Homo sapiens: one gene and its partner. The protein of the gene in region 1 purifies or fractionates together with the protein of each later gene. This does not show direct contact. Each region holds a gene or a part of one and is shown in the gene's direction. Other genes may lie near its edges. The genes, in order: EXD2 and CLPX.

Region 1 (4,255 bases):
GGTGGGAGGATCGCTTGAGGCCAGGAGTTCAAGACCAGCCTGGGCAACACAGTGAAAATCCCTAAAGTGCTGGGATGACACGTTGAGCCACTGTGCCCCAGCTAGGGGTGAAATTGTTGGAACAAAGTCTTTTCACATATTCAGATTCAGTTGATACCGCCAAACAGTTAAACAAAGTGATTGCATCAATTTATGTTCCCTTCAGGAGCATATGAGAGTTGTGGTTGCTCCACAATCTTGCCAATACTTGACATTTTCTTTTTCATTTAGCTATATCTCATTGTGGTTTTAATTTGCATTTCCTCTTTATCCTTTGTTTTTTAAGTGTTTCAAGATGGAGCAGATAAAAATTCAGGGAGTTAATCCTCTATAATAGCTGGAAATTTCCCCCATGGGTACTCATTCAATGGAATTTAAAACATTTGCCCCTGTATTGAAGGCAATATAGTATAAAGGATGGGGCCACATGCTCTGCAATCAGAAATATGAGGTTTGATTCCTAACTCCGGTGCTTACTTGCTGAATTACCTTGAGGAAGTTATTTAACCTTTTTCTATTTTATGTAAAACGGCACTAATAATAGTACTGCCTCACAGGGTTGTTATGGGGATTAAAGGAGAAAAAATAAGTAAAATGCTTTGCAAAGTTCCTAGCAACAGGTGAGCACAAAGTCAACAAATGGTAGCTATTATTATACCTTATATTGGTTATTTATGCACATCTCATTTCTCCTTCTGTTTTACACATTCCATGAGAAAGGAAAAGCATGCATGTAGCACAGATTAACTGCCTCACATATAATTGCTAATAAAGACTGATTGGATGAACGATTTAATATATAAACAAAAAGTATTGTGGTTATCGCTATAAAAGATGGCATAGGTTGGGCATTCACGCCTGTAATCCCAGCACTTTGGGAGGCCGAGTTGTGAGGTTCGCTTGAGCCCAGGAGTTCGAGACCAGCCTAGGCAATGTAGGGAGACAGTATCTACAAAAAAAAAAAAAAAAAAAAAAAAGGAGGGTACATAAAATTATTATAGTGGCTATAGGATAATGTGCACTGCTAATGAAGACTACATTATTTAAATACAGTGTCTTTCCTTCTATTTACTGTTATCGTTTAGCAGAAAAACAGTACGCAGGATACTAAAGAAGGAAAATTCGATGTCCCATATTACATTTGTGAGAGTTCTGGAGGTTTCTCCCTTCAAAGCCAAAACCAAAACACAAACATACCATCCCAGTAACAAATGCGTCACTTTTCTGAAGAAGACGTTAAGCCCTTCCAATTTTAACAGATCCTTTGTTCAACAGAGGAGAGAGACTGGGTAGGCATCACCTGCCCCAGTAGCTTCCGTACAAAATGGCGTTGCCCGTTCCCACACGCCAGCTGGGATTACGTCCTCCAGGCCTGTCGCAGGAACGGAAGTGGTTACGGCCCTAGTGAATCCGGGTGGGTGCGCGCAGGCGGCCGCACAGGTTCCAGGTCTTTAACGTGAGCCCGCTGCAGGTGTGCGGCCCAGTCCGAGACAGCAGGTAAGTGAGGCTCAGAAGCCGGCGAAGCCTTGCACCAGGATTGTGCGCGGGGCAGGGGGTGCTTCCAGTGCAGACTAAGAGGGGTCGTGGAGCGGGGGGATATTACCGTGTACGGGGGTGACATTGCGGGGCCCCCGCTGTCCCGGAGCGAGTTGGCCCTGCCCCTCTCCCCGCCCCTCGGCGTGACCCCCTCGCCCCCGTCGCACACGGCGGGGCGGTTCAGCACCCAGGTGCGCAAGGAGGGCCTCACCCCTGCCCGCGGCCTCCCACGCCCTCCTTGGGCCTCTCCTTTCGACCCCCTTACCCTCTCCCTGGGAGACTCTACCAGACCTTCGAGGCTGCGTGTCCCAGTCAGCTAAAAAGGAGGCCCCGCCCGCGGCACCTGGTAGCTCCTCGGGCGCTGCGGGTTCGACGCGGCAACAGCTGCTGTTTTCTCTCCTGGATTCGTGTGAGCCGCCACCCTCGCTACCATCCCTGTCCTCCCAGACCACACCCTGCTCTGGGCCTTGCCGGGAGCCACCTCTTTGGCTTTTCACATCCCTGGGATGGATCAAAACTAAGAACCTTAATCATTATTTATTACAAAATTGACATCTGCTCCTTAAAATACAAACAAACCAATCCCCCGATAAGCTTTTGATATGATTCCAACATTCAAACTCCTTTATATACCCTCTCCTCAAAAACACAAAATTGAAATTATACTTTATTTTCTTAGTTCTGTTCCAAGGATAGAAGGAATTGAAAGGTTTTGTTAATCATAGGAATTAGGAAGTGCGGGTTGGGGCGCAGCGGGGAAGATGGATTAAATTTGGTCAAGTTGAGCTTGTTTTAAAAATGTATTTTTAAAATATTCTAGTTATAGTCCGTGCATAAAGCCTTGTAACAAAATTATGTAAAAATTTTAAACACAGATCTTTCTTAGCTTGATGTTCTTGGTGGTGAGGGTGGGGAGTGTGGAAGACAGATCCTCTTTGATTTTGTTTTTTTCCATCTCCACCTTCTTTACCAGTCCCTTTCCCACAAAATAAGAACTGTTGTCAGTTTGTGTGTATTTTTCTTTGCATTTATTTGACAAGTATGTGTACGTATAAGATATATGTTTGTAAGATTTCGCTTTAAACTTTTACAAATATGCATGTTTTATGCATTACACAACTTGACGTTTTATGCTTAAAAACGGGTCTTGGAATTTTTTCTTTGTCAGTACCTAGAGATCTACCTATTCTTTCTACTTGCTCTGTAAATTCCATGGTTATGTAAGATTCCATAGATTGTTTCCAGTTTTTCATTGTTAGACACAGTATGGCGGAGAACATCCTTCCCACACACCTCTGTGAGAGCCCATGTGAGAGCATTTCTCAAGGATGGGTACCTGCAGGTGGAATTGCTGGGTGGGAGAGTATGGGGATTTAGGAATGCCAAACTGCCACCCACGGTGGATAATAATTTCCTCCATTCTCTCTCTCTTTTTTTTTTTTTTTTGAGACAGAGTCTTGCTCTGTTGCCCAGGTTGGAGTGCAGTGGCGTGATCTCAGCTCACTGCAGCCTCTGCCTCCCAGGTTCAAGCGATTCTCCTGCCTCAGCCTCCCGAGTAGCTGGTATTACAGGCACCCGCTACCACGCCTGGCTAATTTTTGTATTTTTAGTAGAGACGGGGTTTCACCGTATTTGCCAGGCTGGTCTCAAACTCCTAAACTCGAGTGATCCGCCTGCCTTGGCCTCCCGAAGTGATGGGATTACAGGCGTGAGCCACCGTGTCTGGCCCACCATGCTCTTTTGATCATTTAATGGTATCGATCTTTTTTGTTTTTGCCAATCTGATGGATGGAAAAGTGATTTCTCTTTGCTGTTTTAATTTGCATTCCCCTGATTACTATTGAGATTGAACATCTTCATGATTGTCAGCCATTTGTATTTCCTCTTTTGAGAAACATCTCTTTCTATTGGATTGTCTTTTCCTTATTGATTTATAATAGTATTTTATATGTTCTGGATTTTGATCTTTTGTTATTCATATGTGTTTATAATATTTACTCCCTGCTTATTGCTTTTTTAAGTTGTTGCTTGTCTTTTAACTATATGGCATCTTTGTTGAAACAAAGTTTAAAATTTTAGGTTTTAATTTATCAGTCTGTTATGTGTGTGTTTGTATTTTGTGGCTATCATTCCCAATCCGAGTGGTTCTTAAATGGCAGAGATTTTTGCTCTCGGGGTTATTTGGCAATGTCTGTAAACATTTTTTGTTTGTTCCACTAGGATGGTGCTGCTATTGGTTATCTAGTGAGTAAAAGCGAGGGTGCTGCTAAACATCCTACAGCGCACGGGAAAGCTTCCCACAACAAAGAATTTCACCAGCCAAAAATGTCAGTTGTGCTGAAGTTGAAAAATCCTTCTCTACTTTTAGAGAGAGGAGGGTTTTCTCCTAAAGCTCTGTTTTCTCCTTGAAGTTCTTCTTGTGGGAATAGTTTTTTTTCTTTAATTCCTCTGGAATTGTGTGTGTGTGATTGTTGTTTTCCAAATACTGTCACCTCGAACAGTCAGTCCATTCTTTTTTTTTTTTTTGAGTCAGAGTCTCGCTGTGTCGCCCAGGCTGGAGTGCAGTGGCGCGATCTCAGCTCACTGCAACCTCTGCCTCCCGAGTTCATGCCATTCTCCTGCCTCAGCCTCCCAAGTAGCTGGGACTACAGGCGCCCACCACCTCGCTTGGCTAATTTTT
Region 2 (3,818 bases), on another chromosome or scaffold:
CCAGCTGCGCTGTCCTAAATGTGGCGACTTGTGCACACATGTAGAGACCTTTGTATGTAAGTATTACATCTTCTACTGTTCTTTTTTCCCTACATTTTCTGTAAATTACTAAGTGTATAAAAATATGTAAATTATGTAAAATGTATAAATATAGGCCAGGTGCAAACGGCTTATGCCTATAATCCTAGCACTTTGGAAGGAGGAGATGGGAGAATCCCTTGAGCCTAGGAGTTCAAGACCTGCCTGGGCAACATGTTGAGACACCTGTCTTTCCAAAAAAAAAAAAAAAGCCAGGTATGGTGGTGCATACCTGTGGTCTTAGCTACTTCTTTTAAGAAGGTTGAGGCTGCAGTGAGCCATGGTCATGCCACTGTACCCCATCCTGGGTGACAGAGACCCTGTCTCAAAAAAAAGAAATATATATATATAAATTGTATTAAATGTGTAGAAATATGGATTATATGAAATAGATAAATGTATGTGACTTTGTATGTTATATAAATTATATGTAAATTGTATGAGCTTACCTGATTCTCTCTTATGTTCACTATATACTAGAAAATCTTCAGGACTGGTAATACTTTGCACTGTTGTGTAAGAGATAATTTAAGAAAAACATTTGCTTCTTTATTTTGCTTACTTGTGTTTATTTCAAATTAGATTTTGTGAATTTCTGGATGTGATCATTAGGCTATAGGAGAACCAAGACTTATTTATTCTGTATTTATTACTACTTTCTTCAAATACATATTGAATATCTCACATGGCTGGGAAGGCCAGTCATTCATATATTAAGGTAATTTCCCTTAGTACTTACCAAAGGAGGTAAGCCCTCAATTCCGGGAAGCATCTGATAATTATTAATGATTCAGACACTCAGAGAAGGAAGAAATCAGGGCTGGGCACAGTGACTCACACCTGTAATCCCAGCACTTTCAGAGGCTGAGGTAGGCAGAGTGCTTGAGCCCAGAAGTTCAAAACCAGCCTGAGCAACATGGCAAAACCCCATATGTATAAAAAAATAAAATTAGCTAGGCATGGTGGTGCATGGCTATAGTTCCAGCTACTTAGGGGCTGAGGTAGGAGGATCGCTTGAGCCTGGGAGGTGAGGCAGCAGCGAGCCAGCCATTGAATTCCAGCCTCGGCGACAAAGCAAGAACCTGTCTCAAAAAAAGAAAAAAAGAAGGAAAAAAATCATGTATCCTACTTTTGCTGTTAGTGTCAGTAACTCTCTGAAATGCAAAGATTCTACTACAGATATTTTCATTAATGAATCAAATAATCAAAAAACTCATTACTTAACATAATTTAGAGTTAATGGTAATGAATTGTACCACCATGTCAGCCTTCCTATACAATCCAATTGAAGAAAGCTTCAAGATTGTAAGACTTCAGTGTCTGATGGTTGGCTAGAGAGTATTCTCTATCTCCTAACCCTAATATTGAGACTTTGGTTACAATTTCACACTTACCATTAACCATAATTGGCCACCATATGAAAAGGTACTAGATGTAGTGTGTTTTTATGTACTGGAAAGACTTAAAGTAGCTCCATCCCATAGCTGGAATATTAGGGGTTCTGAACAAAATTTAATTTGGATCACAACATAAAATGAAAGTGGGCCAGGCGCTGTGGCTCACACCAGTAATCACAGGACTTTGGGAGGCCGAGGCGGGCTGATCACTTGAGGTCAGGAGCTTGAGACCAGCCTGCTCAATATGGTGAAACCCCATCTCTACTAAAAATACAAAAATTAGCCGGGCGTGGTGGCGTGCATCTGAAGTCCCAGCTGTTCGGGAGGCTGAGACAGGAGAATCTCTTGAACCTGGGAGGTGGAGGTCATGGTGAGCCAAAATCACACCACTGCACTTCTCCAGCCTGGGCGACAGAGTGAAACTCCATCTCAAAAAAAAAAGGTAGAACTGGATGATAAAACCTTCTAAACAAATTTGATGTGATATAATAAAATTATACAGAGGCTGAAAATTGTTCAATTTATAAGGTCAGTGTCTTATATTTTAATCAAGAAATTTTCCTCCTTTTTTTTTCTTCAAAGAAACATTTCAACCTTTATAGACCTAAAGAATAATTTGTTGCCAGGCGCGGTGGCTTACACCTGTAATCCCAGCACTATGGGAGGCTGAGGTAGGCAGATCACCAGAGGTGAGGCGTTCAAGACCAGCCTGGCCAACGTGGTGAAACCCCGTCTCTACTAAAAATACAAAATTAGCTGGGCGTGGTGGCGGGCACCTGTAATCCCAACTACTCAGGAAGCCGAGGCAGGAGAATTGCTTGAACCTAGGAAGCGGAGGCTGCAGTGAGCCGAGATCACACCACTGCACTCTAGCCTGGGAAACAAGAGTGAAACTCCGTCTCCAAAAAAAAAAAAAGAAAGAAAAAAAAGAAAAAAGAATAATTTCTTAGAGTAGAAAAGGAAAGAAACTAATATTTAATAAATGCCAACATATATAGTTTTATTCTTGCACCCTTAATTTTGCCAGAACAAAGAGTATTCTCCTTTTTATAAATAAACTGAGATTTAGCAAGTTTAAGTAACTCATTCAAGGTCACATAGCAGTGAAGATTTGCTATTCAGAAATTCCTATATCATACATTTCTACCATCTGGAGATACTTTAGGAGTAAACTAGCTCCTCTTGGGATTAAATTTATTTTCCTTCTATGCATTCTTTCCAAAACTTGCCAGGTTGTATTAGTCACTGAAGGTGACTGTTAAACTTAGAGATTCCCAAACTCCTTCCCTAGAGATTAAGATTCTGTAGATGTGGGATGGAGTCCTAGAATTTGTATGTTAGTAGTATATGTATATTATTAGTTAGACCAAGTGTGGAAACACTACTTTAGTGTAATCAATTCAAGGCTGAGGCCTGTTTGCTTTGAGAATTCTAATTGTGGGTGGTGATATGGGAGTAGAAAATGTAGAAGGAAAGAATGAAAAAAAGAGCACACACTTATGTGCAAAATTAATAGCAAATGTGTTGATTCAGACATCACTAGGCTCAGAAAATATGCAGATGATCATGACACTGTCCCTGTCCTCTAACTATTTGTAGGCCCTAGCAGTGCAGTGAGCCCCTCCTCCCTTAGTTTTGTGTACCCATAATAAAAGTCTTTTCAGAATGCATCCTTTTGAATCCTTCTGTGTCTGATCATTAAAAGTTGGGTCTTCATAGTCCTAAAGAGAGTTTTATTTGATCTCAGGTTACTAACAGGTTGAGCATCCGTAGTCTGAAAATCTGGAATTCAAAATGCTCTGAAATCCTTTTGAGTGCGTCATGACGCTTAAAGGAAATGCTCCATTGGAGCATTTCAGATTTCAGATTTCATGTAGGGGTGCTTAACCAGTGTATTTCTGTGAATATTCCAAAACGTGAAAACATTTGAACTCTGAAACACTTCTGGTCCCGTGCATTTTGGTTAAGGGATAACTCAGCCTGTTTTTTTGTTTGTTTTTTGTTTCTATTGTTTTTCTGAGGCAGAGTTTCACTGTTCTCACCCAGGCTGGAGTGCAGTGGCGCGATCTTGGCTCACTGCAACTTCTGCCACCTGGATTCAAGTGCCAGCCTCAGGTGCCTCAGCCGCAGCCTCCCAAGTAGCTGGGATTACAGGTGCCCACCACCATGCCAGGCTAATTTTTGTATTTTTAGTAGAGACGGGGTTTCACCTTGTTGGCCAGGCTGGTCTCGAATTCCTGACCTCAGGTGATTCACCTGCCTTGGCCTCCCAAAGTGCTGGCATTACAGGTGTGAGCCACCATGCCTGGCCTGCATTTTAAGTCTGCATTTATTTGGATACTA

Evidence for each region.
Region 2: the proteins of EXD2 (region 1) and CLPX purify together in Homo sapiens (affinity purification with mass spectrometry; one large-scale study listed by BioGRID and IntAct). This does not show direct contact.

What each region holds. Positions count from the first base shown.
Region 1 is NC_000014.9:69,190,056-69,194,310, forward strand, and holds the start of EXD2 (exonuclease 3'-5' domain-containing protein 2), read left to right. Parts: upstream 1-1,442; 5' UTR 1,443-1,536; intron 1,537-1,715; exon of another isoform or gene 1,716-1,984; intron 1,985-4,255. UniProt on the Homo sapiens protein: Exonuclease that has both 3'-5' exoribonuclease and exodeoxyribonuclease activities, depending on the divalent metal cation used as cofactor.
Region 2 is NC_000015.10:65,175,172-65,178,989, reverse strand, and holds part of CLPX (ATP-dependent clpX-like chaperone, mitochondrial precursor), read left to right. Parts: coding exon 1-56; intron 57-3,818. UniProt on the Homo sapiens protein: ATP-dependent chaperone that functions as an unfoldase.